Linked DNA regions of Homo sapiens. The protein of the gene in region 1 purifies or fractionates together with the protein of each later gene. This does not show direct contact. Each region holds a gene or a part of one and is shown on either strand. Other genes may lie near its edges.

Region 1 (3,825 bases):
CTTCTTTTTTCCCTCTCCCTACTCAACTTTCAAAAGATGTTTGATTCTTCAGATAACTTTTGAAATGTGCTATAAAGGGCCTAGTTTAAAAGGAACTTCTTTTGAAAAGCAATTAACAGTTGATAAAGGGTTAAATAAAAATTATCTAGTAAGGAATTTCTTATTGGAATGTAAACGTGGTTCTAATTTTAAATAGACAGTGATATAAAGAATAAAAAGTAAACAGTGAAATTGAGTTCTCCAGGGAAAAGGCAGACCTGTTTAGTAAAAAAAGGATGCTTTTTTCAGTGATGTCTTTTTTTGAGTGCATATGTGTGTGACTCTTGAAGAAATCCATGTTCAGATTTATCAGATGATTGAAGTGGGTGTTCTGAATAAAGAAAGCTGTGAGGCCTGAGGCAGTGACGTATCAGGAAACATATTTTATTGGAGATTTGGAAGCTATAGTAAAACATAATGGCAATAAGCCAACTTCCCAGTGGTAAACCCACAGTGGTGGTTTAGTTACTAACCTCTTGATGACCGAGGAGGTTAATAATTGGATATTGCAGAGCAGCAATATGTAACCTGTGTGTAATCTCAGGGCCTCAGGTTAACAGTTTCAGTCAGAAGCTAAGAGAAACACTGACAAAATTTAGCTTACCATGACTAGCTGCCAGTTTATGTGGTCTGTGTTCGTTTGTTTTAAAGAAACTAATACTGTACAGAGATCTTTGACACCAACTTCAAGGCACCAGTGTTTAGTGCAAGCAGGTAGAGAGGACCTATGAACTAGGTTTCTAATTGGCAGTCAGTGCTAATTCAGCCATTAGTAAGTAAAGTCACTTTTCCACTAAAATAGTGTCCCGACTAACCACCTCCTTCCGTGTCTTTTCCAACCACAAAACCACACACATAGACCATCTCATCTTACTTTATTTCTTGCATTTATTGTATCCAAAAAAATTGGTTTAGTTTTTTAATGTAATTGACAAGACTCAAGCTTTTGAAATACTTACGACTGTTCTCTTGATTCCAGGACACCCTCCCCTGTGTCTAAACATGTGTGGTATACTTTTTAAATAAATTAAAGCTTATTTTACTTGGCATTTTGTGGAGGGAATTTTACAACACCTCGGGAGATATCTGCAGACACCCTGGGGTGTCACAAATTTAAGACTAGAAGTCATTGCCCTAATCAAAGACGACTGTTACACTGGTCTAGACATCTTAGGGGAACTCCAAAATGTTTATACTTCAACTCTCAGTAAAAGCTCAAGCTTGTCTTTTGCCTTACCAAATTCCATATCTCAAAATAAACTTTTCTCCCTCTGGTTTTTGTATGTACTCAAATCATTTTTTTATAAATATCTCAGAATATGTATTTGCTATAAATTATATATAAAGTTATAGAATTATGAAGTTATAAGAGAAACGATGGCCCCAAATCCATCATTACTGCAGAGTCATATGGCACATGAAAGCTGGGAATAGTCTTTGGGTAACTGAAAGAAGGCAGTCCATTGAGAATGGAAAAAGTCATCAATTGTGCAAATAATTGAGGACTTGGCAGAGTGACCTTCGAACAAAACTATAGAGATTAATCAGAGCTTGTAAATGGGGAAATACTCATTCTCTTCACAAGAAGCAGTATTCAAATTTTATTCTTCATGCCTTCCATCCGGTCATGTCACTTCTGTTATTCAGTCTTTCAGAATTCTATTGTTACTGATTATGGTGAAAATATGTGGGGGATAACCTTATGAATATTGCTATATATATGGAACAGTTTACACTGAAGTATTTAAGATCATTTTATTTCAGTTGAATTCTGTTGTAATTTTTAGCAAATAAATAAAAAGGACAATCTTGTTTTCTCCCTCAGTTTGGAATAAGGATCAAAGGTTTTACCCATTCAAAAAAAGTTGGAGAAAGTGGTCCTCTGACATAAATTCAAGTAGATGATGAGAATGCTTGGTCTTTAATTGCACTATTGGAAGGTATTTTCCCACATCTGGTGACCATGCTGTTCAGCAGCAAACTATTCTGTAGCCTCACTTCACAACCTCTAGGAGTTGTTGGGTTTGGTTCCCCATCCCCCTTCTCTTTGTAACTCTCTCCAAAGCCCCATAAGCATCTGGAAGGTTGCTCTTGAAGACCTGTCTCAATACTAGTATGACGTGTGCTGGTGAAACCAAAGAAAGGCCTAAATCTTACAATACGTTCCTTTTACCCAGCCAGGACCAAAATAAAACCTTTAAAAACCTTCAGCACAAAAAAGTGGTGGTGATAAAAATAAAAACAATAAGAGGCATAAAAGTGCTTATAAAATAAGTTCTAAACAAGATCTGAAATTTTCCCTTAATGTCTACCACCATACTTTCTTTAAAAAATCTTTTGAAAAATTTTTTCATGGAAATCCCAGCTTTACTGAGAATTTAAGCAAGTGCATAGACCAGTTGTTGGGTAACCTAGTACTGTGCCTTGTAGATACCAGATCATCCTTGTGTGGTCAAGTGTTTTTAATAACCCACGTGCTCAGTGCCACTAGATTGAAAGACTGATGTCATTGGCTAGCTGGCCAGCTGTGATACTGAAATTTTCGGAAACATCCATTCATTTCGCTCCCTTTAACACTGCACTGAAGCACTAGACCCCAGGGTATTTTGCTCAATGAGGCTACTAAGACAGCTTCTCAGTCCTGGGAACCTGGCCTCTTGAGCAAGCCGTCTTCAAGCCCAACTTTGTGAGCTCTGCCTGTTCCTAGGTACCCCCCTTTTCCTTATCACAAAAAGACAAAGTGGGGGAAAAATCTAAACACCATAGAATGAAATGAAGTCACCCGGGGCCATATATTAGCTAAGCCTTTTCTTTTTCTCTACATGGCAAGCAGTGAGTTCAAGGCAGACATGCCTGCGGTGCTTAATGATGTTGCCTCATCTCCCCTGGTCTACTGTTTTCTTCCCCACCATGGCCCTCTCCTCCCCTTCCTTGGGAAAGGTAGGGTTTGTTTTCCTGTTGGTCATGGTGTGCACAGGTATGCTTTCTCAAGGCCTCTGTGTTTTTAGTTTTGCCCTGTGCCTGCCTCCCTCTCTTTGGAGGAACCTGTGCCAGTTGGCTACCTTGCCAGGTAGATGTGTTTCTGAAGGGGAAGCCAGGGCTGGTTTTTCATCTCTCCACCCCGGGGGCTGCAGGGGTGTCTGGCACACACACATACCTCGGCTGACATCCACATCAGCTCTGGGCCATCTTCCCCACCTTTGGCTGTGAGAGGCGGCTACAGGCATGTAGGCACTCAGAATGAGATGAGAGGGACAGGCTCTGAACTGGCAGAGTTAGCTACACTGAGAAGAAAGGCAGGTTTTGTTTTGCAGGAGGAAGTAGCCCACCCTTCACAGGCTCCAGAGAGGGCACATGTCAGTAGTTGTCCTGTGCCTCACACACTCAAGATAAACCAGATGATCTGTTTTGAGGATGCTTGACTTCTTCCATGTTATTTTTGCCAACCTCTCAGTCTCAACTCTTGTTCATTCATTCTGTGGATCTTTATATCTCTGTTTAAGTGGGTTCAATAAGAATCTGTATATGCCATGATCACAGAAGGTGATTGGGGAATAAATTTTTTTATGAAAGATTCTGCACTTTGCAAATGTATTCCCAATAGCATATATTAAAATTGCCAGTCTCCAGGGAATTCAAAAGTATTCCTTTTTCAAAAACAATTCTGAAATTCATTTATTATTAAGTTGCATACCTAAACAAACAATGGAAATGTTTTTAGTAATTATTTTTGTACAAGTAGTTTGAATGCCTTCATTTTATTTTTCCTTTTGTTTTAATGTGGTT
Region 2 (3,825 bases), on another chromosome or scaffold:
AGCAATTTGAAAACATCAGTTTTTTATCAAAAGGAAATTAAAGTATCAGAGTATTATTTTTTTATATTGTTTTTTCTACACATATGAGGATTCCCTAGTAAAAACAATTATAATGAACAAGAAGACATATTTAAATATTCAGAAGTATTATTACTTGTACTATTTTGATTGCTCTACAGTCTGTCTTCGAGTAAATTCTGACACCTTTTAGGCAAGGAGCTGAATCTTTGGCTTTTCTGTATCAACTCTTCTGTATGTTATTCCATGGTTGTGCTCATTAAAAAACCTTGATGCTGCTGCTGTTCCTCATAATGGCCAATTTAAGTCTATCTTCATGAAAACATGAGCTTGCTGAAGATTCTGAAAGTGCAGCATGCACTTAACTAGTACTGAGATGTGTTCTTGTTCCTGCTATTTATCTGTGATGCCTTGGACAGGTTATAAACTTTTCTTTGTTTCAGAGTCCTCTTAAAGATGAATTGAATTATTGTATCTGCTTCTGTGGTTGTATGGTTTCAATGTAAAGATAATGAGAACTGCCTGGCACATAAATAGCACTCAATACATGTTAGCTATTATTACTATTAATACTTTTCATTTTGGTTGGTAGAGCCATAACATCTTTAGGTTCATATTTAAATACAAAGAAGAAACAGTTAATCAACCTGCATTCACACTTCAATAGAAAGATCATTATCAGTGGCACAGTGCCTTCTAATAATCACTTTGGGAATTCTGAACCTGTTTTAAGAAATTTGAAATAGAACACATACTCTCTGAAGTGAGGGAACTATTTTGTGCAAAAGGAAAGTTAATGCAGGAAATTTTCTCTAACCAGATATTGAATAAATTTCTCATTCTAAGTGTAAAGAAGAAGTAACCAAAAAATTTAACAAATTGTCTATGCCTTGATTTCACGCATTATAAAGAGTAGATAAGCCTCACGTTTGCATTCCCAGCATTTTGGGAGTCCAAGCGGGGAGGATCAGTTGAAGCCAGGAGTTGAGGACTAGTCTGGGCAATAGATTGGGACCCAGTCTGTATTTAAAAAGAAAAAAAAAAAAAAAACAAGTAGACGAGCCTTTTAAAAAATAATATGCTTATACTTAATTAAGATAGCTTTATGGAAGTTGAAGGTGTAGAGAACAAGGTTATTTTTCTAATTATGTTTTCTTGAACATCTAAAACAAACAGGGCTACAGGAAGCCTATATTTGAAAGCCTGTGGGCCAAATACAGGAGAAATTATTCTCAGCTTAAAAACAAAGTAGCTTTATATAAACAGCAGGGTATTAATTGCTGTGCTAGGGTATTAATTTGCTTTGCTAGGGCTGTCTTTGGATGTGGAGATTTGCTATAATGTTGCCTTATTGTTAGAGGTGTTGGAGTCCCTGCTCTGTCCCATACCAACTGAATGGACTTGGGCAAGTTACTTAACCCCTGAGAGCCAAGTTTCCTCATCTGAGTAGTGTGGAGAATAATGTCATCTCAGAAACGCATTTGTGAGAATTTAATAAGATAATTTATATAGCATACCTGTTTCCACAACTGGGATAGAGGAAGCTCTCAATAAGCGATTTTATTTTTCCAGAGAGGCAAAGCACACAAAATTCTATTTTCTAACACTTTATGAAGATATTAGAAGTTTTTTGGGCTTATCTTTCTAGTCCAGGCCCTTCTGGGTGAAAGAGACACATCCAGATGTAGGCCTTTCCATCTTTTAAAGGAGAAGAAAGACAGAAAGGTTTGAGGTTTCAAACAGAGTTAAATGGCAGCTAACAGGAAATTTTGAAAACTTGATTACATGACATGGAGAAAAGAATAAGGCCTATTATTCAACAGTTAGATTTGAGTAATTCATAATTTTAAGTGGTGAGCTCTGCCTTCGTCTGTTGTAGTAGATACACCTACCCCACCCCATCCATCAGTCCATCCACCAGCGGAAAATAGGAGATGGGTTAAAGAGATGTGGGCTTTGCCTTCAGGCTGTTTCCAGGGCCATGGTCCTGAGAATGAGAAAGGGAGAAAGAACTGAAATGAAGCAGAGCACATCCTGCGTGTTAGGCCCTGTGCTTTTCTTATCTCATATGGAGGTAAAACACAGTGAAAGGAAATATTAACATAGATAATACATATAATTAGCTCTGTGGTCACAGCAGGGCACAGGACAAATGGTGAGTTGGAATGGTCTGAAAAAACTTCTGAACCTTCTGGTCCTTGATGATTTTATAACAGATTTGAGTTTACAAGAAAGAACATAACACAGACCCCAGATTTTGGCAGAGTAAGCCCCCAGTGAATTTAACGATGTGATATATAATCTGCCAACTTGACGGCATCATCTTTTTCAGATGAAAAGCAATGATATTTCTATAAAAGATGATTTAGGATAGGGAGGAGGGGTGCTCCCAAAAGATTGTTCAGAGCAGCAGCCTCTAATGTAATTATTATAAGGAGTTAATCTTAAGAAGGTGAAAAAGAAGATACTAGAAGCCTGCATTTTTAAAGGAGAAGAGGAAGAAGGTAGAAATTAAATACTAGGAACAATAAAATGAAAGTTTAGTGTGCATTTTTATGAAGATGCTATAGATTTATATTTCTTTTCTTTTAACAATACATATTTTTTCTAATAGTAATGTATTCCTTACTGAAAATTTGGATAAATATAGGAAAAAAATCAGATAATCCTTGAACCTAAAAAATTCATGGTTAATATTTTTGGGTGTCTGTAATTTTCTAAATTTTTAATGTGCAAAACCACATTCCTACAATTAAGCAGAAAAAATGTAAATCTGACATTTTGTTCAAGTAGGATACACTTCTGAATTTATTATGATATTCATAGTTTCATACTATAGTAATAGAAACAGTCACATGTAGTATGAGTTCAGGATATGTCTTGCAGATTTGCATTGAGATTTAATATAGATTTGTCTTTTAATTTGTTCTTCATAAAAATGGAAATAAATTTAAGATGCTTGTTTTACTTAGCTTTTGGAAATTAGGAAAGAAAGGCTTGAAGACCTATGACAATATTTTTCATTGGGCTTTGTATTCATTTTTTCTAAATTAGATTAAGTACCATTTGGGTAAATATTTTTCAAGATTTATTTTGCTATTTTTCTGCCTGAACTTGTCTGTAATACTGATAGCACTTTTCCTTTGAGAACTGTGTTAGACTTTTATTTCTACTTCACAGAAAATAATAATAATAATAATAATAGTAACAACATATTTTTAGGTATAGTGGAAGAATACCAGCTTCCTTATCATGACCTAGTGCCCAGTGACCCCTCTTATGAGGACATGAGGGAGATTGTGTGCATCAAGAAGTTACGCCCCTCATTCCCAAACCGGTGGAGCAGTGATGAGGTAAGGCTTGAGGTAACCATGTGGCTGTGACAGACTTCTAAATAGACTTTTCTTTTTTAGCTAAAATTCCACATATTGATTGTAGGAATTCTTCTTTTTTTGATGGTGATGGTGATGGCGCCTCATTGCAGTAATTTATATGAAGATAAGTGTAGTATGTTAAATTACTTGTTCTACTTTTCCAATTTTATTTTGCCACTTCCAGAATATATTGAGTGAGTTGGTCAGTGTTTAGCCTGCATAACAAATAACATTATTTTCTTTATTTATAATGTCTTGACATTTGCATAAAACCTATTATTTCTCTGTGTGTGTTTTTAAAGCATCATAATTTTTCTCTGTGACAAACCCATGTACAGCATTCTCCCATTTTGATTAGAGAAAAAAAGTAGGCATGTTAAAGTGATACAGGTTGACCTAGTTAAGATGCCTGACTGTGCTGGGTGTCTTTGTT

What was found.
Region 2: the proteins of RGMB (region 1) and BMPR1B purify together in Homo sapiens (affinity purification with western blotting, with the first as the bait; one study listed by BioGRID). This does not show direct contact.

What each region holds. Positions count from the first base shown.
Region 1 is NC_000005.10:98,780,099-98,783,923, forward strand, and holds part of RGMB (repulsive guidance molecule B isoform 1 precursor), read left to right. Parts: intron 1-3,825. UniProt on the Homo sapiens protein: Member of the repulsive guidance molecule (RGM) family that contributes to the patterning of the developing nervous system. Acts as a bone morphogenetic protein (BMP) coreceptor that potentiates BMP signaling. Promotes neuronal adhesion.
Region 2 is NC_000004.12:95,149,403-95,153,227, forward strand, and holds part of BMPR1B (bone morphogenetic protein receptor type-1B isoform b precursor), read left to right. Parts: intron 1-3,240; coding exon 3,241-3,371; intron 3,372-3,825. UniProt on the Homo sapiens protein: On ligand binding, forms a receptor complex consisting of two type II and two type I transmembrane serine/threonine kinases.